4 linked regions of the Homo sapiens genome follow. The protein of the gene in region 3 interacts with the protein of the main gene of each other region in a pairwise test. Each region holds a gene or a part of one and is shown on either strand. Other genes may lie near its edges. The genes, in order: CTNNA3, PLSCR4, ATP23 and ABI2.

Evidence for each region.
Region 1: the proteins of ATP23 (region 3) and CTNNA3 interact in binary tests that used the Homo sapiens proteins (3 or more experiments, as listed by UniProt).
Region 2: the proteins of ATP23 (region 3) and PLSCR4 interact in binary tests that used the Homo sapiens proteins (3 or more experiments, as listed by UniProt).
Region 4: the proteins of ATP23 (region 3) and ABI2 interact in binary tests that used the Homo sapiens proteins (3 or more experiments, as listed by UniProt).

Annotation. Positions count from the first base shown.
Region 1 is NC_000010.11:67,693,157-67,700,549, reverse strand, and holds the start of CTNNA3 (catenin alpha-3), read left to right. Parts: upstream 1-4,354; 5' UTR 4,355-4,550; intron 4,551-7,393. UniProt on the Homo sapiens protein: May be involved in formation of stretch-resistant cell-cell adhesion complexes.
Region 2 is NC_000003.12:146,206,086-146,213,124, forward strand, and holds part of PLSCR4 (phospholipid scramblase 4), read right to left. Parts: intron 677-7,039; coding exon 441-676; intron 1-440. UniProt on the Homo sapiens protein: Catalyzes metal ion-induced ATP-independent rapid bidirectional and non-specific movement of phospholipids (lipid scrambling or lipid flip-flop) between the inner and outer leaflet of the plasma membrane and participates in the redistribution of phospholipids between membrane leaflets.
Region 3 is NC_000012.12:57,937,523-57,944,589, reverse strand, and holds the start of ATP23 (mitochondrial inner membrane protease ATP23 homolog), read right to left. Parts: upstream 3,024-7,067; 5' UTR 2,889-3,023; coding exon 2,702-2,888; exon of another isoform or gene 2,693-2,701; coding exon of another isoform or gene 2,662-2,692; intron 1-2,661.
Region 4 is NC_000002.12:203,429,389-203,432,703, forward strand, and holds the end of ABI2 (abl interactor 2), read left to right. Parts: 3' UTR 1-1,612; coding exon of another isoform or gene 1,613-1,617; 3' UTR 1,618-2,781; downstream 2,782-3,315. UniProt on the Homo sapiens protein: Regulator of actin cytoskeleton dynamics underlying cell motility and adhesion. Functions as a component of the WAVE complex, which activates actin nucleating machinery Arp2/3 to drive lamellipodia formation.

The sequences.
Region 1 (7,393 bases), on a different chromosome or scaffold from region 3:
TCTGTTGGAGTTTGCTAGAGGTCCACTCCAGACCCTGTTTGCTGGATATCAGCAGCGGAGATTGCAAAACAGCGGATTTTCGTGAACCGTGAATGCTGCTGTCTGATCGTTCCTCTGCAAGTTTTGTCTCAGAGGAGTACCTGGCCGTGTGAGGTGTCAGTCTGCCCCTACTGGGGGGTGCCTCCCAGTTAGGCTGCTCGGGGGTCAAGGGGTCAGGGACCCACTTGAGGAGGCAGTCTGCCCATTCTCAGATCTGCAGCTGCGTGCTGGGAGAACCACTGCTCTCTTCAAAGCTGTCAGACAGGTACACTTAAGTCTGCAGAGGTTACTGCTGTCTTTTTGTTTGTCTGTGCCCTGCCCCCAGAGGTGGAGCCTACAGAGGCAGGCAGGCCTCCTTGAGCTGTGGTGGGCTCCACCCATTTCGAGCTTCCTGGCTGCTTTGTTTACCTAAGCAAGCCTGGGCAATGGCGGGCGCCCCTCCCCCAGCCTCGCTGCTGCCTTGCAGTTTGATCTCAGACTGCTGTGCTAGCAATCAGTGAGACTCTGTGGGCATAGGACCCTCCAAAGCATGTGCGGGATATAATCTCCTGGTGCGCTGTCTTTTAAGCCCATCGGAAAAGCGCAGTATTAGGGTGGGAGTGACCCGATTTTCCAGGTGCCGTCTGTCACCCCTTTCTTTGACTAGGAAAGGGAACTCCCCGACCCGTTGTTCTTTCCGAGTGAGGCAGTGGCTTGCCCGACTTCGGCTCGCGAACGGTGCACTGCACCCACTGTCCTGCGCCCACTGTCTGGCACTCCCTAGTGAGATGAACCTGGTACCTCAGATGGAAATGCAGAAATCACCCGTCTTCTGCGTCGCTCATGCTGGGAGCTGTAGACCGGAGCTGTTCCTATTCAGCCATCTTGGCTCCACCTTCTCTTTTCTTAACTGCTTCTTAGTAATCCCTGAGTGAAATGTCTATCCTCAAATACTGGAAATTCCTTAGCGTGTACCTGGGTGGCTTCATTGTCTTTCATTTTGAGCCATAGTCACCAATTATTGGCAACAGGAGAAGTCCCACTCAATATCCTATGTCATTTAAAGATCTCATTTGAAGCCATAGGTTAGGATGTGTTATCCCCTCAGGTGACAGAATGGTTTGGCCACCTGGAGGTTGTTGATAGACTTAAAAATGACCCTTTTGGGAGTGAAGGGGAAATAAATCATCTTAGTGGGTTGTGAAGTGAGAGGTAAAAACATAGGGGTGGTGGACAACTCATTTGGGAAGTATTATGATGAAGGCACAGAGAACTAAGTAGCAACCACAGGGAGTTGTAGGGTAAAAGTATGTTTTGTTTGTTTGAAAATTTTCAGGTAGAAGTCCTGTGGCATATTTTTGCACTGATCATTGGAGAAAGGGTGATAATGCAGTGTGTGAGGTGATCGTGAAGGAGCAGAGTCCTTGAAAAGGTGAGGGAAGAAGGGATCCAGCACACAAGAGAGATTAGCCTTTGGTAAGAGCAAGAGGACTTCTTGCATTTTAATAGGAGGGAGGGTAGAGAAGATGAGGCTCGGTGTTAGTGGGTTTATAGATTTGATGATGGAAAGATGTGAAACATCTTCCAGATGGCTTCTGTTCTTCTTAGTGAGGCAGGAGAGTTGGTTAGCTGCTAATAATAAGGATGGTTGGGAAGGGAGAGTGAGAAACATTTTTTTTTTTTGTATTAATAGTACATAAGACCTTCAAATCAGGGGCAGATTCATTTAGATTCACCTAAAATACCTGACAAGGTGCCAGAAGTATTTATCACATATTTTTGAAAAAAATGGTTTTAATTATCACAAACAGGGATTATTCCTAGCTTTAAATCTCATTTTAGAAAGGTATTATGGCTGTTCAGAAAATTACATATTTTTAAAGCCCGAACCTGAAATTGCCAGTATTTTGAGATATTATGGACAGATGAAATGGACTCATGGTTCATGCAAAAGTGATTTTCATTCTATAAGGGATTTTATTGACAAGAAGAAACTACTCCATTCTGACTAAAGAACATATTGCACCCTGGAGGATTTATTTTCCAAGAGAGGCTACTGACAGGGATAGAATTATCTTCTTTTTGGAGGCCTCCCTTCTCTCCTGTAATCTTCTAGCTGGCGCCTAACACAGGGCTCTGCATCAAGGGGCTTCTCAATACATCCAATTGAATGACTTTGTTTGGGGCCGGTCCTGATGCCCAGAACGAAAAAACTTACTTTTGATTACCTCGGGAGAATTGCTAGTAATGGCCCTGATTTATTCTCTCTCTTTTTTCTCTCTTTTTTTTTTCCCCAGCTCTTCTACCCTCAATGTTTGATTGCTTGCAAGAGGCATGTGAGCCAAAATTTTAAAGTTTGCAAAGTATAAAGAAAGGAAACAAGTAAATAGGGAAGGAGAATAAATACTGAACAAGACTGGGCAAGGTGACAAGAAAGAACTACTGTGAAAATCTGGAAGAGGGCCAGGATGCAAAATGCAGGGGCTGTGTAGTTTACAGGAACTATTTAGCCTCCAGCATGCCTCAGCGATCACACAGAGAAAGGCAGATTTCTCTGCTTTTGTCTCCTACCCTATAGTTAGCTATGGAAATTTGACATAGGTGATATATGTTTTCTGTCAGCAAACTGATACAAATACAGAGGACCATGGGGCCTGTGATCAACAAATCCAACGTGATTTGAATTGCTAGGAGGGGACCTCTTGTGGCTATAGTGGGAAATACTTCAGCTAAATACTACCTTGGAGGCTGCAGATATTTTTATGAAGGAATTAAAAAAAAACCCACTATAAAAGCTCTTTAAAATTACATTTCAGATATTTATAATATTTAATTGTTTTGATAACACCAAATTCTGTAAGAAGGTTTTATCTGTATTGCATCTCTGAAGAGTTCAGTGTAATTTAAAGCTCTTCAGCTTTTATCCATTTAATTCACATATCCTCTGAAAAGCAAATGAAAAGAATAAGAGTTCTCATCTACATTTTGTAGGTGGAAAGGAGAGGTACAGGGCAGGTAAGTAACTTATTGTGGTTTCACAGCAGGACAAGCTAGGCTTATGATAGAATTTGGATATCTCATCTTGGGCTCAATTCAACAGTCCTGGTTTGGAAAACATTCATTATTAAAGCTCTAAAACAAAACCTGCTATTTTGCAAGTGTCAAGTGATTTCTTTATTCAAGAAAAGATGGATTGAGAGACATAAAACTTACTCTTTGTTTCACTGTGAAAAGATGCTATTCCTAGATTCTCCAGGGGGAAAAAGCTGCTTTAAAAAAATCTGGGGAGGATAGCATGTTAGCAACTAAGAATCTTTAGATAAATATATTGTCAATTATGCCCATTTTAAAGGTAGCTACATAAAAATACAGTTGTTTTGAAGGCTATCCTGAAAATCATATAAAATGAACTCCTTTCATAGTTGATTCTCTGACAGTTCCCAGACCCTGCCTTTCCTCTTGGCTCCCTGAAATTTGTGCTAAGAGTATCTGGAGAGCCAATAAATAAATGCTTTCTTTTTATTTTGAATTCAGCCTTTTAAGAACAGGACTGCCAAAACTCAAACAAGTAGTTCATATTTTAGTTAGCACCTCTTGTTTTAGAAGCTATTAGAAGAAAGTCGGAAAAATGGTAATGTCCAAGGAAATGCCACAGAAGTTCGAGTGGGATGTCAAGGAATTGATGAAATGATAAAGATTGTTTCAGTGGATGTGAAGATATTGAGGGAGAAGATATCAAAAAAAAGGGAAAAGGAAATGTGAAAAAGAATAGTCATAGAGAGAAAAAATAAATTTTGGTGGAGAAGACTTTTTTTTTTGGTGGCTTAAATTTAATAATGGGTTAACCTATTGAGTTTTTGGTAAATCTTCAGTTTAGATTCTTTACTGATAATGATGTGGTTCCTCATAAATACTGGAAGGAGAGAGTGTGATGCTTGGTACAAGGGATGAGACAGGTAATATTTCAGAAGAAGAAAAATACGATCTCAGATGTGACACATGGCCTTGATGCCATCATCTCTAGGGTTCTGAAGACATTGAATTTTACATAATTGATCTTTTGATGTGAGGATTTCCTGGACTCTTGTTTTCCCTGCTTTATCATTTTTCACTTTCAATAATTCCAGCCTTTGGCTTTAATTAGATAGAAGAGGTTCTTCTTTTGGAAAGGAACTAGAGAAATGCAAATCTAAACTTATTCAGAGCTATGTTTGTAGGTCTCTAGGCAAAGTATGTGTCTGGCCTTTTTCAACGAAGTATTTTCAGTAACAAGTTGTCAGTGAGGTCAGTGACTAGCGGTTCAGGATTAGATACCACCCACCCTGGCTTGTAACCTCCCCTTTCTTTCTTATCCTGGGTGAACAACGCTCAGCGAAATTGACTGCCCCACTGTCATCTGCCTCTCAATTTGGTACTCTGTAACTCTGTGACCACCAAGAAGCCTTTTTCCGTCCCCCACAAAGCTCTTTTTGGAAAATTCCCTACGGGAGCTGAATTTTAAGCCCATTTACTTTATAGGAAGAAACAGAAAGGTAAGAATCAAGTTTGTAAAGAGAAGAGCTGAACTTCAGCGAATTCTCATTTCTGCATTGAATTCCTGTGTCTTAGTTATAATCATAGGTTTAAAATTTGGGGTTTTCTTCTGAACTGAGGAAGATCACATTATTGTATGAAATAGGAATGTTTTGACTAGTTATGAGAAACGTAGGCTTTCACGCTAATTTTAAAGTTATAAATAACTTTCGAACTATTGCCAGGGGAAGCTGGTAGCCAAGGTCGTGCTTTGCATTCAGAGAGTTTCTGGCTATAAAAAGCCGATTGGATACTGTGCAGGAAAAGATAAGATATGGCCTGGATGCTTGTGCTTTGGCATGGGAGTGGGGAAAAGGAAGCAAAGATGGAATATGTTTGAAGGGATTTTACTTTCAACCAAAAGCTAATTCATAGTAAATGGAAGATGTTTCAAGTGAGATAATGGCAAAAAGCATTAATTTCTGAATTTAATGTCTATTTGTTTTATAATTGGAAGGAATATTAAGAGGTTGAGGAATGCTCTCAGAACTGTTTGATGACCAGTTATAGTCAAATGAAAATCACTGTATGGAATGATCATGAGATGTAATGATCAATCATGTAAAGAAAAGGTCACTATCTAATGGGATCTGAATGATTGTGAGCAGCTGCTGTCAGTTACACGGAAGACAAATAAAAGAAATGAGTTCAAATGGAAACAAGAAGAAATTGGGGTTAGACATCAGAAAGTTCATTTACTGTAGAGGTTTTGAGTCACTGATATGTGCCTACTAAGATCTCTGGAGATAACGTGAGAATGCAATGATTTGCTTAAAACAAAGTGGAAAAAGCAGGATTTCAAGTTTGCATTGGTTCTGGGTTTGTGGCTAGCTTTTTAGACAGATTGAAAGCTCAACATATTGAGAATAGTTGTGATTTGAAGATTCAGATTATCCATGGTCAGATTTGAATGGCATATTTGAGTGTGCTATTAAAATTTCATTGTCCATTATAAAAAATTATCTCAGTAGAACCATAGGACAAGTTTGTTAAATGGAGAAACCTAAAATACAGACAGTATAGACAAAGTTATTCCCATTTGTTACCTCCTACACATAGTCTAAATCTTCCTATTTGAGTAAAGATTGGTAAAACTTTTTTTCATTATAAAAGCATTAAATGTTCATCGTAGGAATTTTGAAAGCACAGAAAAATATTTCCTGTAATTTCATTGATGTGTTTCCTTCTAGTCTTTTTTTTTCTAGATGGCTTTAAAAATAATTGCAATAATAGTATAGATAAAATTTGGAACCTTGCTTTTTCATTTAACCATATACCAAAACATTTTCCACAGAATATTACCTATTCTACAGTGGTGTTATTTTAAATTTGTGTAACATTTGTTCAAGTGAATGAATATAATTTTATTAATCATTGCTGAACATCTAGATGCTATGGTAAACATCTTTGTGTATTTATTTACTTATGTGTATATGTATGTTGTAGATATGTTTAAGATAATTTCCTTAATCTCTGTTTCTAACTGTAGAAGTGTTGGATTAGAGAACACTATGTTTGAAGGTAAAAGTTGTGATATTTAAGATGTGTTTTTACTGTTATTCTTTTAAAGCATTGTAAAATTCCTAGTCTACCAAATGATATATTTATTGTCTATGATGTGCAAAACATTGTTATCAGGCACATAGATACCAAAATACTTAGTGTTTAGAAGGATGGAATCTCTCCTACCTACAAAATTTCCACTCAATAAACTTTTACAGATATCAACAAAGCTACATGTCAGAGTTGAAAATACTTCAGCTCTGCCTGAAACCGATAGATAGTATTGTTGATCACTTACGTTACTTTGCACATGAAAATAACAGAATGTATAAGTAACTTTATTAGAAGACCATGTAGACATAGTGATTTATATGACTTTTATGATACAACTGTGACAAAGAAATAGGAATAGGAAGAATAAATTCTTTACTTATTGTGAATCTTTGGAGAAATTAGAAGTATTTGGAGAAAATCTGTAGGCAACAGACTAGAAAGAAAAGGGATAGAGGGCACATGCTAGAGGAGCAATTCAGTATTGGGTTTTTCTATAGGGAAAACATGAGAATGGAATTAGGCGTGGCTATGGTAGGAGTCAGAGAAGATAAGTTTTAATTCTGTCATTGTTGAGTTTGAGAACCATGTTGTGTAAATAGAGTAGAAGGAAGAAAGCTAAGGAATTAGTGATAAATACAACTAATTATTGGAAGTGGTTACTGGTCCCAAGTAATCAAAGTGGAGAGATTAGAGATATCAATATTATGTGGTGTGAAGTGAGAGGTAGAGTTATGAATTATCAAATAATATATTCTTCCTGTATTAAAAAACTTTTTAAATTGTGAAGTTTTTATTATTCAGTAATAATATTTAGAGAAAAACCATAGCTACAGAAGGATGGGAGTTTCATTCTCTATTCCCCATGAACTTCTGTTTGCATGTTTCTATTTTTTTTGGAATAGAAGGGATTAAGATTTAAGAAGAGAAGTTGGCAACCCAAACTGGCCTGAAGAGAAATTATGCGCTTTGTAATGAAAACTTGAAAATAGTGTTTATTTATGGATCATTGGCTCATGGGAATGCTAGTCTAGAGATTTAAAAAGTGTGATTTTCTGATTCTTGTTTGGATACTGGATTTTAAGTGAGATGGTACAGCGGGGTGGAACTCCGGAGTTTAGCAAAGTTGCAAATCTAATGGAAAGTGACAGATAATTGAGGCTGCAGAATTTTTGAAGGTGAACAGGACTGTTAGCCGATACATCTGATTTTTCACATGCTTAAATACTGTTTTTAACCACATTATTTT
Region 2 (7,039 bases), on a different chromosome or scaffold from region 3:
GAGTAGCTAATGAAAATGATGGGTGGTGGTAAAAAGCAATGGGCTAAGGCACTCAGTAATTTACCCACTGTATTGTGTTTTGTTCTCTTTTGTGCTTTTTTTGATGTTAACTGTTTACTTCTAAGCAAATAACACAACTATCCTCTATGATAGTTTTTCTATTTCCATTTGTACAATTCTTTCAAGAAAACATCTTGAATGCCTTGAAGTTCAACATAAATCCTTATGAAAAACATACTCATCCCACTATAAACATCCTTGTACTTGCTGTTTCCCCTTCATATTTCTGAAACTGGTATCACTGTTCTTATAGTTTCACAAATGGCATCTGTCATCACTGACCCATCTCCTTTATTCACTCTGGTCTGCTTTTTTTCTCTCTTTGTTGGATCCCTATGGTCACATTTCATAAGAAAATAATTTGTATTTTCATGGAGTACCTGAACTAAGTATTCCAGACCAGGAGGGCAGTTTGCCATAGGAGTTGGCCCTGGCATCCATGTTATTGGAACAGACTGATTTGGCATAGGATATTTGCCAGGCTGATACCGGACAGGATGGATACCACCAACTGGCTGGTACAAAGGGAAGGTACTGGGTTGCTGTGGACTGTAGTATCCCATAGGCAAGCCTCCTGGGTAGCCAGTAGGTGGAGGGACAGCTGTTCCAGGGGGTCCTGTGTTCAAAAGAAATCAAAGTGTTATATATTATTAACACTAAAGTTAGCATAACTTTTTACATGCGATGAAATAGATCACACGACATCCACTTAAATATAACAACTTGTTCCATTTTTGATTCACACTTTATGCAGATCATGGTTGCATATGACCCAACGATGTATTAGGGAGACTTATTTACATATTAATTCATTTAATCCTCTTAAAGCTTATAAGATAATTATTCCCATTTCAATGGTACAAAAATAAGTTTTGAAACATTAGAAGAAACATGTTAGCTTCTTAATAAATTAGGTTCCTCCTTGGAGATAATAAACTTACCTAATGAGGTTGTAGTGGGATTAATTACTAACGTATTAATTACTAACGTATAATTACTAACATATAATTACTCCTGCAAATTTTTGTTATTATGTCTATTGTTATTGTTTGTGGTTACATAAATAATGTCTACTTCATTTCAAAGGAGTGCTTTTAATGAATATTTTAGGTTGCCTTGACCCAATCGCTTGTACATATCTTCATCATCGAGTTCTCAGACTGGTCCCCAATCCTGACCTCTTTTAGATTCAATTTCTTAAAGTTATTTTCTTAGTAGTTATGCTGCTATAACAAAATAAGCACAAACTGAGTGGCTTAAACAACAAGCATTTCTTTCTTATAGTTCTGGAGGCTGGGAAGTTCAAAGATAAATGTTAGCATGGTCAAACCTGGTGAGAGCCTTTCCTGGTTTGCAGATGTTCACCTTCTTGCTATATGCTCACAGAGTGAAGGGGGAGAGAGAGAGACAGAAAGACAGAATCCCTCTCATGTCTCCTCTTATAGGGTATGAGTGCCATCATGAGGGCTCCACTCTTTTGATTTAATTTTCTCTGAAAGGCCCCACTTCCAAGTAACATCACATTGGGAAATGGGACTTCAATATGTGAATTTGGGAGGGATATAAACATTCAGCCCACAGCACTTATCCCTCTATCATTTCTCCCCATTCCACCTTCAATCAGAGATCTGATGAATTATCTTTGTCATTATAAGTCCATCAAGGAACCTAGATTTCCTTAAATGGATACAAGATTTTATCATGCTTTAAGAGCACAGTCTACATATTCAATGCAATTCCCATCAAAATACTATCACCGTTCTTCACAGAACTAGAAAAAACAATCCTAAAATTCATATGCAACCAAAAAAGAGCCTGCATAGCCAAAGCAAAACTAAGTAAGTGAAAAGAACAAATCTGGAGGCATCACATTACTTGATTTCAAATGATACTATAAGGACATAGTCACCAAAACAAGATGGTACTGGTATAAAAATAGGCACATAGACCAATGGAACAGAATAGGGAACCCAAAAATAAACCCAAATACAGCCAACTGATCTTTGACAAAGCAAACAAAACACAAAGTGGGGAAAGGACACCCTATTCAACAAATGGTACTGGGATAATTGGCTAGCCACATGTATGAGAATGAAACTGGATGCTCATCTCTCACCTTATATAAAAATCAACGCAAGATGGATCAAGCACTTAAATCTAAGACCTGAAACTATAAAAATTCTAGAAGATAATATCAGAAAAACCCTTCTAGATATTGGCTTAGGCAAAGACTTCATGACCAAAAACCCAAAAGCAAATGCAACAAAAGCAATGATAAGTAGGTGGGACTTAATTAAACTAAAGAGCTTTTGCACAGCAAAAACAACAGTCAGCAGAGTAAACAGACAACCCAAACACAATCTATACATCTGACAAAGGACTAATATCCAGAATCTGTAACGAACTCAAACAAATTAGCAAGAAAATACAAACAATCCCATCAAAAAGTGGGATAAGGACATGAATAGACAATTCTCAAAAGAAGATACACAAATGGCCAACAATTGTATGAAAAAATACTCAGCATCACTAATGATCAGGGAAATGTAAATCAAAACCACAATGTAATAACCCCTTATTCCTGCAAGAATGGCCATAATCAAAAACTCAAAAAATAACAGATGTTGACATGTACGGAGAACAGGGAACACTTCTACACTGCTGGTGGGAATGTAAACTAGTATAGCCACTATGGAAAACAGTGTGGAGATTCCTTAAAGAACTAAAAGTAGAACTACCATTTGATCCAGCAATCCCACTACTGGGGTATTTATCCAGGGGAAAAGAAGTCAAAAAAAGATACTTGCATATGCATGTTTATAGCAGCGCAATTCACTGCTATAATACGGAACTAGCCCAAATGCCCATCAATCTACGAGTGGATAAAGAAAAATGTGGGATTACATATATATATGATGGAATACTACTCAGCCATAAAAAGGAATGAATTAATGGCATTCACAGCAACCTGGATGCGATTGGAGACTATTATTCTAAGGAAAGTAATTCAGGAATGGAAAACCAAATATTGTATGTTCTCACACGTAAGTGGGAGCTAAGCTATGAGGATGCAAAGGCATAGAAATGATACAATGGAATGGACTTTGGGGGCTCAGGGGTAATGATGGGAAGGGGGTGAGGGATAAAAGGCTACAAATTGGGTTCAGTGTATACTGCTTGGGTGGTGGGTGCACTAGAATCTCACAAAATATCACCACTAAAGAACTTACTCATATAACCAAATACCACCTGTTCCCCAAAATCCTATGGAAATAAAATATTTTTTAAAAAGAGTACTCATAAAAATGAATAAGCACACAACAGCTAATGTTTGACTTTAGGAATTTTTTTATCAAGGTCTCTTAAGATAAGCAGTGGTAACTTTGCATTTCACTATGTTTTTTTAAAGTCAAAGAATTGCCAACAATAAGTATGAGAATGCCATTACTGCATATCTATCTAGGTCTGGTTACCAGGAATTTTTTGAATAACTTTGATCATTACTAATTTATTTTTGTTTCACTTTCCAAGTTTTTAAGATTAATTAATTAAAATTTATAAATAACTGGGTCTTGGTTGTCTACCCAGAAATATGCAACAGACCCTAACTTATTGCTAAGGTCTTGTAGCTCTAACTGAAATCCTGTGAGTAGTAGAGCCACAAGCAGCCCACAAGTGATGTTGTCTGAACTGTCAGGAAGGCCAGGCTCAGATAAAGAAAGGTTTTTCTCCTTTAAGAGAGAATTTAAGGAATAATGTCCTGTGGTTGAAAACAAAATAAGTTATGTAAGTCAAGATATTTTATGTTAAGATTTCAGTATAGTCGTCCCTTGATATTCATAAAGGATTGGTTCCAGGACTCCCTCAAATACCAAAACCTACAAATGCTTAAGTCCCTTATATAAAATGGTGTAGTATTTACATGTAACCTACTCACAGCCTCCCATATACTTTAAATGATGTCTAGATTACTTACAATAGCTAACACAATGTAAATGCTAATATAAATTGTTTTTGTGTTATTTTTATTGTATAATTTTTATTGTCATTTTTAATTGTGCTTTTAAAATATTTTTAATCCACACTTTTTTGAATCCATGGATGAAGAATTCACAAATATAGGGGTCCAACTGTGGATCTATTTTAGTTTAAATTAAATAAAAACAACTTTTTATGAGCAGGGAATACCAGCTAAGACTTGAACTGTAAAATCTGAAGCCTTAGTGACAAGACATGAAGGCAATTTTTAAAAATGGAACTAGATTTTTCAGATTTTCAAAGGCAGATGTTTAAATTTAGAGAAAAAAATCACCTCAACATATTGTTTCTTAAATTGTGGCTCAATATACCAAGTCCTTCAAGATAATCTGGAGTTCTTAGTAAAATTCCAGATTCTGAGCCTCATTCCAATCTATTGCAACAGGATCTCTATGGCAAAACTTGAGATTAACAAAACATTTTATTTCATTGATCCTTTTTTAAAATGTACAATGTAGTGGTTTTAAGTATATTCTCAAAGTTGTGCAACCATCACTGCTACCTAAACCCAGAATTTTCATCATACCAGAAAGAACACCCATACCCATTAGCAGCAATTTCCATCTCCTCTTCCCCACAGTCCCTGAAAACCACTACTATCTGTGGATTTGCCTAATCTACACTTTTCATGTAAATGAAAACATACAATAGGCCTTTATGTCTGTTTTTTTTTTTACACTTGGCATGTTTTCAAGGTTCATCCATGTTGTAGCACATATAAGTACTTAATTCCATTTTATGGCTGAGTAGTATTCTATTGTGTGGATATATCACATTTTAGGTATTGTTTAATCAGTCAATGGACATTTAGGTTGCTTTCACTCTGGGCTATTATAAATAACACTGCTGTGATCCTCCATGTACAAGTTTTAGTGTGGACATGTTTTCAGTTCTCTAGCTATGAGTGAAATTAGCTGAAATATTTAGTAACTCCATTATTAACTGCCAAACTGTTTTCCAAAGTGGCTTTACAATTTCATGTCCACTTGCAAATATGAGAGTTCTACTTTCTCCACATCCTCCACCAATACTTGTTATTGTCTGTTTTTATTTTAGTCATCTTAGTGGGTATGAAGTTGTATCTTATTGTGATTTTTATTTGCATTTTTCTGATTACTAATGATGTTCAGCATCTTTTCATGTGCTTATTGGCCATTTGTATATCTCCTTTGGAGAACTATCTATTAAATCTTTTGCCTACTTTAAAACTGAATCATTTGTCTTTTTATTGTTGCATTATAAATGTTCTTTATATATTCAAGATAAAAGTCTCTTGCCAGATAGTTTGCAAGTGTTTTCTCTCATTGTGTAGGTTGTCTTTTCTCTTTGATAGTGTCCTTAGATATACAAAACTTTTTAATTGTTATGAAGTCCAATTTATTTTTTGTTGGTTGTTTGTGCTTTAGAGTGTCATATCATATCTAAGAAACTATTGCCTAATCCAAGGACATAAATACTTACATCTATATCTTGTAAAAGTTTTATAGTTTTCACTCTTAGACATAGGTCTTTCAAACACATAGATCTTTGATTCATTTAGAGTTTTTGTGTTTAGGGTGAGACAGTTTCAAATCATTCTTTTGTATGTTGATATTCATTTGTCTCAGATCCTTTGTTGAAAAGAGTATTCTTTCCCTATTGAATTATTTTGACATGCTTGTAAAAAATCAGTTGGCTACAGATGTTTGGGTTTATTTCTTAGACTCTCAATTCTATCTCATTGGTCTATATGTCTATCTTTATGCTAGTACTGTGGTATTGACTTCTGTAGCTTTATAGTAAATTGGAAATTGGGAATTGTGAGTCCTCCAATTTTTTTTCAAGATTGTTTAGGCTATTCTGAATCCTTTACATTTCCATATGTATTTGAGGAATAGCCTGTCAATTTAAAAATTCCACTGTGATAAGAATTGTGTTGAATCTGTAGATCAATTTAAGGAGCATTTCCATTTAACAATATTTACTTTTCAAATCTGTAAAATGCCTTTCCACTTACGTAGTCTTCTTTAATTTCTTTCAACGTTTTATAGTTTTCAATATGAAAGATATTTTACTCCTTTTATTAAAGTTACTTCTGGGTATGTTATTTTTAATGTTATTGTATGTGGAATTATAATTTTAATTTCTTTTTACATTTTTCATTGTTAATATATAGAAATACTTTTGGATTTCTGTATTATGATCTTATATCCTAACACACTGCTGAACTTGTTTATTGTGCTGTTTGTGGGTATATATGGGTTTTTTTGTTTTGTTTTTTTTTGTTTTTTGGGTTTTTTTTTTTTTAGACAGGGTCTCAGTCTGTCACCCAGGCTGAAGTGCAGTAGTATGATCATAGTTCACTGCAGTCTCAAATCCCTGGACTCAATTGATCCTTCTACCCTAGCCTCCAGGTAACTGGGACTACAGGAGTACAGGAGTGTACCACTGCACCCAGCTTAGACTTTTTACATATATAGGCTCATGTCTTCTGCAAATGGAGATGGTTTTGTTTCTTTCTTTCAATCTGGATGAATTTTCTTTCTTTTTCTTGACTAATTGCTCTGGCTAGAACTTCCAGTACAATGCTGAATAGAAGTGGCAAGAAAGATACCCTGTCTCATTCTTGATCTTAGATGAAATGAACGTTTTCAGTCTTTACTCCTAAACATAATGTTTGGTGTGAGTTTTTCATAGGTACTCTTTTATCAGATTGAGGGAGTTCCTCCTATTTCTAGTTTCTTAAGTGTTTTTATCATGGAGGATGTTGTATTTTGTCAAGTGTGATTTCTGTGCTTACTGATGTGGTCATGTGGTGTTTGTACTATATTTTATTAATATAGTACATACATTGATGTGTTTTAATATGATATTTAATGTGATAAACCAATCTTTTATCCATGGGATAAATCCCACTTGGTCATGGTGTTTAATCCTTTTTTATGTTCCTAAATCTGGTTTG
Region 3 (7,067 bases):
GAACAGGTAACTGTATTCCAGGAGAGGTCTGTAGAGTATCTGGCCAGCAATAGCACAGAGGTTTCCCTGTAAGGGGACGGGGAGGCCTAGACGATTCCTGAGGGCCCTTCCACATCTAAGACTCTATGGGCCCGTGACTACTACAGGAAAGTACAAGGAGCCCAAATGCCTCTGATATTAACTTTTCACATAGGCATCTTGTCTGAGAATATAAATGCACAGCCAATTATATGATGTAACCCAAAAAAAGTGAAAAAGAAACTAAGGTTTAAAAAAAATGTTGAAGGCAAAAATAGGTGAGAAAAAGAAATGTGAGATGAGAAAGTCAGGTATAGGTTACTGCTTTACCAACCTGCCCCTTGCAAGAGTGTTCACAGTAGAATAATTATTGTTAACAATACGTATTATTGAGTGAATACCAGGTAGCAGGCACCATATTAAGCACATTATTATTCATGCAACTAGGAGAATTTTACAAAATTAAAACAGTTTCAAAAGTCTGTAGTCCTTGTACTTAAAAAAAAAAAAAACCATGGTTTAGTACTTCAAAAAGGACCTGCAGCAATATTTAGAATAAAATTGCTTTGGTGAAAAAAAAAAAAAAAAAAGAGACTCCCATGAGGTCTGGTTTCCACCACCACGCCCCACCCAGGGATAGCATTTTAAAGCTGCAGGTTGACACTTTAATACCACCAAAAGACCCTCCCAGCCACCCTGCCCTTGGAAGATCAAGGTCCATTGATTCCTACTGGGGCTCATGTTCAGCACCCCACCTTCCTCACATCCTATCTATTTCCACTCTTCCTCCACTGTGTGGCCCTTCCACTGTAAAAACAGCTACCATTTATTCAGCTCAGCTCCTGATATGCTGGTACTTTACATTCATAAAATCAGTACTTTTTTTTTTTTTAGACAGGGTCTCGCTCTGTTGCCCAGGCTGGAGTGCAGTGATGCAATAACAGCTCACTGCAGCCTCAGCCTCCTGGGTTCAAGCAAATCTCCTGCCTCAGCCTCCTAAATAGTTGGGACTGCAGGCATGAGCCACCACATCCAGCTAATTTTTTTTATTTTTTGTAGAGACAGGGTCTCCCTATATTACCCAGGCTGGTCTTAAACATCTGAGCTCAAGCAATCCCCCTGCCTTGGCTCCCCAAAGTGCTGAGATTACAGGCATGAGCCACCGTACCCAGCCCCATAAAATCTATTCTTCACAACAACCCTAAAAAAGGTATTTTCCCCTTCTCTTTTTTTACAATAAGGATAGTGAGGATCAGAGAAGTTAAGTCACCTTCCACACCTGAGGAAAGGGATCCGCATTTGAACCCACATCTAACTCTGCAACCCATACTCTTTCCACTCTATTCCACTTTGAAGCACCTTCAAGGCAGGGTGCTAACTCATCTTTCTACTTCCCCCACCAGAACCTGGGAGGCACTCAATACATATTTGTACAGTAAATACAATATCATCATTCTCTCCCCTTTTACCCTCAACTCCCCTTCCTCCTCCTACCTCCCTGAGTCTCTACAAGCAGGTAATCCCAAGAAGGTTGGAAAATCTTTCGGTGGTTGACTTTTGAACTGTGACTGACTAGCTATGAAATAGTAACCTTGCTTTGGGACAAGTATGTTTAAGACTAATTTTCTGAATGTATCTGAAAGTAAACTTAAGAAGTCTATGTCAATGTAAAGGAATTAAGAAATCTTCTCTAGTGCAATGTCTCTGGGACGGGAGAGAAATTTGTCAATGGGCAGTTGTGTCCCTGTTTAACCCACAGCAGTTCTTAACCTTTGTGGGGTCGTTGGCCTCTTTGAGAATATGATGAAGCTATTAACTCTCTCCCCCGACCAAAAAAAAATACACTTTGGGCCGGGCGCAGTGACTCACGCCTGTAATCCCAGCACTTTGGGAGGCCGAGGCAGGCAGATCACGAGGTCAGGAGATCAAGACCATCCTGGCTAACACGGTGAAAACCCGTCTCTACTAAAAATACAAAAAATTAGCAGGGTGTGGTGGCGAGCGCCTGTAGTCCCAGCTACTCGGGAGGCTGAGGCAGGAGAACGGCGTGAACCCAGTAGGCGGAGCTTGCAGTGAGCAAAGATCGCGCCACTGCACCCCAGCCTGGGCGACAGAGCGAGACTCCGTCTCAAAAAAAAAAAAAAAATGCACTTAGGGGCACACACACACACATACACACGATTTCACAGACCATTTCAGGGATTTCTACGCTCTGAAGCCCATTCATGCATGAACCACTTCCAAGGAACGGTAGGTTTGCAAAACTGCTTTTATATTTTTACAGCCTTGGTATGCCTTAATTACATTTTTACATTTTTACAGCCTTTGTGTGCCTTAATTAACCTGGCTGGCACTTTAAAACTTGGCCTCACCCTTACCCTGAAGTCACAGTGTGGCTGCATAACTTATGTAAGAAATCGGAGGATCTGTCACAACAGTGAGTGACAAAAAAGGGCAGACAAATTCATTCCACAAGCCAAAAACAGCGACGAAAAGGGTCTCAGCGCCACCTCTAGTGGGGAAACTGAGCCTCAGGCTCCCAACCCAGCCCCCATGATGCCCAGTCTGTCTAGACTCTGTGCTGAACCTGAAGCCCCTGGCCAGGTGTTGCCCAGGCCCTTCCTCGCCCACCCGGTCTCAGACCCATTCTGTGGAACCACAGCCTCCAGGTCATGGCTCCTACTTGTCTCCAGCGTCTTCAGGAGCCTAAGCTGGCACTTCTGGTTGCTGGTGAAGAAGCTGGAGAAGAACCCTTGCTGGGGATTCCCCTGGGCCAGACGCTCGGGGAAGACCTGGCAAGAGACGTGTTGCTGCTGCAGCTGCTCCCCTGCCGCGGGGCCCCGCCGGCGCTCGTCCGGAGCTCCCGCCATGCCTCCCGCAGACCTCGCCGCTGCTTCCTCCTGGCTCAGGCGGCCAGAGCGAGACTGGGAAAGGTAACCTCCCTCCCGCCAACGCGACCGCCCAGGCCCTCCCTCCGCAGGGAAGAAGGGCAGCCTGGCTGGGCTGAAGACGTTAGGCGGGAGGGGGCTTTGAACCTGACGGGGAGCGCGGGAGGCGGGGCGAGAGGCGAGGGGCGGGGCGAGAGGCGAGGGGCGGGGCGAGGGATGAGGGGCGGGGCGAGGGCATGGGGCGGGGCGCGGGGCCCGATGCTGTTGGGCGGAGCTGGGTCTTGCGACTTCCCTCAAAGGCTGTAACAACCCGGCTGCCGCGGATTTCGCTGCTGCCCTCCCAGTGTGGGTGACATGTCTTTATAAGCGTTGTTCTGCAGCTTCCTGCTGCCTGCTGAGCTCTAAGGGTGTCCCGCCTCCTCGCAGACACTCCTTCCTCACCTCGGGGCGAATATTGGCCACTAACTGCTCTTGTGCCGCCGAAGGTCTCGGCCATCCTCCCACTCCCTGCCTTCTTCCGGGGCAAGCCAGTTGTCATTTCTGGCCCGCCACTTTCCCGACCCCTGCCATCCCTCAGATCCACTCTGCCCAAAGATGCCTCTGGCCATATTGAAAGCAGTGTTTTTCAGAAACGTTTTAAAACTATAAAGAATGACTAGTCACATCAAAATCCTCAAAATGTAGGAACCAACTACATTTTTTCTTCCCACCTGTACCCATTCGTTTACCCTACTCTTCTGCCCCACCCCCCACCAATAACTCCCTGATAACAAAGCGCACCCTGTTTACTTCTACCTCTCAGCCTTAACTCATACTGTCATTTCCATCTTTAAGCTCCTTGCCTCAGCCCCTATGATTGGGGCCCAGGTCAAATCTGCCTACTCCACAGGGCATTCCCAGATACCTTAATCAAAATTAATGTCTCCTGATCTCCCAATGTACAAAGCACTTTGTACCTGTTAATCATTTTCATCGTAGCCTGCCAGGTTTTATCCAATTTGTGTGTTTCTCTTTTCCTACTAAATTATTCCACTCAGCTCACACATTTATTCAGCACCTACTATGATGGGCCAGGCAAGGTGTAAGAGACTGAGGAAACACATGACTAAGAAAATTGCTAAAGATGAAGAGCAGCATGTGGTTTATGTAAGAAACATATCTGAAAAATATAGGCTCAGCAGGCCTTTAGGGTTATGAACAGTGCTTTATGTGTCATAGATGCTCAATATCTAAATTGAGTGGGATGCTAGGATAGTCATTCATCTGGAATATTATAAAAATACAAACAACTCCTATGTACATAGACTATTAAAGCCAGAAGTCAAAAAAAAAGTAACTACTTTTTAATTAAATTCACCTTGGATACATTATTTCCAATCCTCACTACAACCCTGCAAAGTAAGTATTATCTCTAATTTGCAGATAAAGTGGGCTCAGCAAAATTCAATAATTTATCTAGGACCACACAACTAGCTTTCAATCCAGTTATTGAACTAAAACACACATATGGAAAACTAAGCCATTACAATTCAGTGTGATTAGTTTGGAATACTGAAGGCAGGCTAGATATGCCTAGAAATGGACCATAGCCTATATACATTTGAAATACTATTTGGATTTTTTTCATGCTTTCTTTTTTAATACATAGATTCAGGTGGTTTATGTGTAGGTTTATTATACAGATATATTGTGTAGTGGTGAGGTCTGGGCTTCTAGTGTACCCATCACCCAAACAGTGAACATTGTACCCAATAGTTAATTTTTCAACCCTCACCCTTCCCCTCCCACTCTCCCCACTTTTGGAGTCCCCAGTGTCTATTATTCCCCTCTGTATGTCCACGTGCACTCAGTCTTTAGCTTCCACTTATAAGTGAGAACATGGGGTGTTTGATTTTCTGCTTCTGAGTTATTTCACTTAGGATAATGGCCCCCAGCTCCATCCATGTTGCTGCAAAAGACATGATTTCATTATTTTTATGGCTGCATAGTATTCCGTGGTGTATGCATAACCACATTTTCTTTAACCATCTGTTGGTGGACACTTAGGTTAATGGTTGATTCTATGTCTTTGTCTTTTTGTCATAACAATTTCTTCTTTTTTTTTTCTTTTTCAGAGACAGGTTCTTGCTCTGTCACCCAGGCTGGAGTGCAGTGGCGTAATCATAGCTCACCACAGCCTTGAATTCTTGGGCTTAAGCAATCCTACCACCTCAGTCTCTCGAGTAGCTAGAACTACTGGCATGCACCATCATGTCTGGTTAACTTTTTAATTTTTTGTAGAGATGGAGGTTTTTTGCTATATTGCTCAGGCTGGTCTCAAACTCCTGGCATCAAGTGATCCTCCTGCCTCAGCCTCCCAAAGCTCTAGGATTACAAGCATGAGCCACCACACCCAGTCACAATTTGTTTTCCTTTGGGTAGCCAGTAGTGAGATTGCTGGGTCAAATGGTAGTTCTATTTTTAGTTCTTTGAGAAATCTCCATACTAGTTTCCACAGAGGTTGTACTAATTTACATTCCCACCAACAGTGTATAGGCAATCTCTTTTTTCTGAATTCTCATCAATATCGGGTTGTTTTTTGACTTTTTAATAATAGTCATTCTGACTGGTGCAAGATGGTATCTCACCGTGGTTTTAATCTGCATTTCTCTGATGATTAGTGATGTTGAGAAGTTTATCATGTTTATTAGCCACTTGTATGTCTTCTTTTGAGAAATGTCTATTCCTGTCTTTTGCCCACTTTTGAATAGGGTTATTTAGTTTTTTCTGGTTGAGTTCCTTGTAGATTCTGGATATTAGTCCTTTGTTGGATGCACAGTTTGTAAATATGTTCTTCCATTCTGTAGGTTATTTGATTCTTTATCTTACTATGCAGAAGCTTTTTAGCTTAATGAAACTCATTTGTCTGTTTTTGTTTTTGTTGCATTTGCTTTTGAGGACTTGCTCATAAATTATTTGCCTAGGTCAATCTCCACAAGAGTTTTTCCTAGGTTTTCTTCTAGGGTTTTTATTGTTTCAGGTCTTAAATTTAACTCTAATTCATCTTGAGTTAATTTTGGTATATGGTGAAAGAAAGGGGTGCAGTTTCATTCCTCTGCATGTCTATCCACTTTGTGTAGCACCATTTATTAAATAGAGTGTCTTTTCCCATTATATGTTTTTGTTGTCATTGTCTAAGATCAGTTGGTTGTAGGTATGTGGCTTTATTTCTGGATACTATTTGCAATACCCTTCAGCTACAGGAATAAGTAAAAACGTACAAACCAAAAGCTGCAACATTTCCTTACTAAATTAGCTAAAACTGTTTCAATACTCATTGTTGAAGAAACAGATGGAAAAAAATTCATACCACAGTATCAATGGTTGTCTAGGTATTGGAATTTTTTTGTTACATTCTCCTGAAATTTTCTAATGTTCCTCAATAAGCATGTATTACCTTTATAATCAGAAAAATAAACTTTAAAAAATCAAGTGGGCTTTGGATGCCATGTGTAACTTCATCTGTATACAGTATAAAGACATAGGTATGGAATAAAAACACATTAAGGAAGAGATAATGAACAGCAAATACAAATGAGTTTTAAAAAGAAAAAGAATTACCACAAAGAAATTAGAGCAAGGGCAAAGATTTAGCTATAAGGATTTTCATTTCTCCATTGCAGCACTAATTGAGAGCAAAAATGGCCAGGCCAGTGGCATGTAATCATAGCTATTTGGGAGGCTAAGGCAGGAGGACTGCCTGAGCCCAGAAGTTCAAGACCAGCCTGTGTGATACAGCAAGACACCTCCTCCTCAAAAAAAAGGGGCGGCAGGGGAAGACATCAATTGTTTAAATATCCAACAAGAGGTATAATGGAATATATACAACCATGTTAAGTGTCTTTTTTAAACAAAATATGTTCATTAAAAGTTTTTGGGTGTTTTGTTTTGTTTTTTTGTTTTTTTGTTTTTTGAGCCAGAGTCTTGCTCTGTCGCCCAGGCTGGAGTGCAGTGGCGCCATCCCGGCTCACTGCAACCTCTGCCTCCTGGGTTCAAGCAATTCTCCTGCCTCAGTGAGCTGGGATCGCGCCACTGCACTCCAGCCTGGGCGACAGAGCAAGACAACAGCTCAAAAAAAAAAAAAATTCAGGCTGGGCGCGGGTGGCTCATGCCTGTAATCCC
Region 4 (3,315 bases), on a different chromosome or scaffold from region 3:
ATTATTTATTTAAACAGCTTTTTGCTGAGAAAGCTTAGTGGATTAATGAGGCAGAGGGTGTTTTGAAATCCAATAAATAGTTCCCACAGGCTGGGTGTGGTGGCTTATGCCTGTAATCCCAGCACTTTCGGAGGCCGAGGTGGGTGGATCATGAGGTCAATAAATTGAGACCATCCTGGCCAACATGGTGAAACCCCATCTCTACTAAAAACACAAAAATTAGCTGGGCGTGGTGGCGCACACCTGTAGTCCCAGCTACTTGGGAGGCTGAGGCAGGAGAATCACTGGAACCTGGGAGGCAGAGGTTGCAGTGAGCCGAGATTGTGCCACTGCACTCCAGCCTGGTGACAGAGCGAGACTCCATCAAAAAAAAAAAAAAAAAGTTCCCACAGCTCACCACTACAGAAGCAGGGAAGACAACTATGCAGAAAACAGAGTTAGTGGCGGTCAGCAGGAATGCAGCTGGTCTTTTGGACCCCTACGGGATGGGGGCAGTGCAGAAGACACTGGTGAAGTCCTTTATACTGAAGACCTGTGGTTGGGAGCAGGGGTAGTCCATGGGTCTGCTGATTTTTTTTCCCTATTTAGTACTAATGTGTGTGTGATCTTTGTTTTACAAACAGTACCTTTTGGGTTTTCTGCATATTTTATAATTTTTGTACAGTTTTGAATTCTATAGATTGTCTTGGAAGGATACTGTGTGATGGGTCAGGCACACAGTAATTGGAGACTTTTAATGTATGTAATATTTCATAGATTGCATGCTATTAATCATCTGTGAGGGTAGTATTTTTTGTTTTATTGTAAGTTTCCCTCTTTTTTTATAAATTAAAAGATGGTTGGTATTAGGAATTTCAAATGAATGCAGAAAATCTTACATGCTGTGTACTATTAATATTATAACAGACGATCCAAGTCCAAAATCTGACCAATAAAGCAACCATTTTATCAAGATAGAGGGATTCTAATGGGAGAGGGGATTCTTCCCTCCTGAAGTTTGTGTGTCCAGTCCCCTTAAAAAAAATGAATAGTTGTCTTTTCTTGTCATATTAATACTCGAAAGTCCATGGTGGTATTAATGAAAGTACACTTTATTGTTGCCTTTGAACTTACGGCCAAGGCAATAAATCAGAAACAAAAATAGTGCCAATGTGTCAAAATCGACATCTGAGAGATTCAGCCTCCCATTTGGAATAAATATGAATCTTCTAAGCTATCTTGTTTAATATTTTCCATCATTTAGCTACTTCCTATCTCCCTCAGAGGCGCCTGCTGTTCCCATTTTAGAGTTGACAGTGGCCTGCTAATTTTGCTATGTTCCTAAAAGTTACTGGGTGTGAGACATTTTCATCCCCTCCTTTTTCCTACTGCTGGTGTTTATTATCCAGCTAGACAATATTTTATGCATATTTACCGTGATGTCTGGACCGTACCTGTGCTCCTTGGCAGTTTATGTTGAAGATAACTAAAGATTTTTCTCTTTGGGAGGCATCAAAATGATGGTAGTTTGCTTTTATCTTTTTATGTTCATTTTCTTTTAGTAGGTGACCTTTCTGCATTAAGAACTGTTTTTATCTTTTACTACCTTTTCTTTTCTCCTTTGTGGAGACAGCATGACATGTCCTGAAGGTCACCTTTGCCTTTGAAAAAGGTTTGATGGAGGAATTCACAGGTGACTGACAAGTCTTTGAAAAGAATGGGATCTGCTCACTTCTGGTCTTTTTGGCCGGGAACTCCTGATTGGTGTTAAGGTGGTAATTTCCCCCATATAAGATTTAGAATCACTGAGTTTGAGCTAGATGAAATTTTTAAAATTTCTGGTTGTCTCATTAGACTGATGAGGTGAGTTTTCTTCTTCATATGAACAGCTAGTTAATAACAGCAGAGTTCTCACTCAGTGCTCAGTACTTAATTTTCCACTGCACCACAACTGTCTTAACTAAATGTGCTGTATTTTTCTTTAAAAGTTAAGAGTTCTATTTGGTGTTTTCAGGAATATACGTGAAAAGACATGCCATGTTTTGGTAAATACCATCAGAGTTGTGTAAAGGCGTGTACTAAGTGCAATCTTAATTTGTGGAAATAATCTTCATTTACCCCTCCTAAAACTACACTCAGTATAAACACTTTCCCATAAGGTGTGTGCAGTAAAAATGTTATATTACTCCAACACTGGCAGGAGCACAGCACAGCAGCCTTATTGGAGAGAGCCTTATAAAAGTGATTAAATGGAGGCATTGAGCTCATTACCTTTAAGTTTACTTTGTGCTGACCTTTGTTCCTGTTTTGAGAATCTCATATAATTATTAAAAAAAAAAAACAATTAAAACGAAACGGCGGGGCCTAGCTGTGTATAAATGATCCTTGCTGAATATCTTAAGGTTTTTTGTAAGAAAAAAGAAAAACCAACAAAAAAAGCTTATTTTCACATTAAAATGAAACCTCTTTTGCAACTTAAGAATTCTATGGAAAAGCAGTTTTTATCATATTTTGTGTCCATGCACCATTTTTCTTAAAATGGCTTACAAAAAAGAATGTAAACAATTTGTGATCTGGCCAGTTGTACTTTTAGCTCCCAGAGGGAGAGTTGGTGGTATTATGAGTTGAGTAAAAACCATCCAGGGGAACTTGAGGGAGCAGTCTGTTGCCAGTAATGTTCCTTGTGTGCCATTAAACCACCTCCAGATGAGTGGAGGAACATCACTTTTTAATTTTTTAATTGTATTTGGAATTGTTGCCGTGTACTAAGAACTTGACCTAAATAAAATCCCACAAAGTATATTCAGGTGTCTTGTTAACTTATTTATATAAATAACCTCTTTTTCTAAGGTGGTATCTTGAGTTTACGTGTTAGGGATAATCTGACTTTTCTGTTGCTCTAAACCAGGGAGCTGCCTTTTATTACTGAAGAAGTCGTCTTTTTAAATTTTCAAAGATTTAAAATGTTGAGCTTTAAATTTGATCTCAAGTTTCTTCCCTGAAGACAGCTGTTCTAATTAAGAACTTTCTAATCCTGTTTTTGCTCCACTCGCACCTGGGGTTTTCTTACCACTTTTCTCCAAATCTAATTCTGTTAATGTACAGTTTTTTTAATTCAACAGACAAACACTGAAGATGGGTGTTGACTAAAAAATATTGCAGACTGGTCAGAAGTGAATCTAAAAGACAAACCACTAACTAGCCTGTGCTTTGTTGCTATGAGAGCCTAGATTATAAAAGAATTTTCTAATGATGTATCTGAGGGTAGCAAGTAAGTTTGTCTTCACAATACCCAAAATGATGTTTCAGCTTTTCTCACTTTTCAAGCCCATCTTA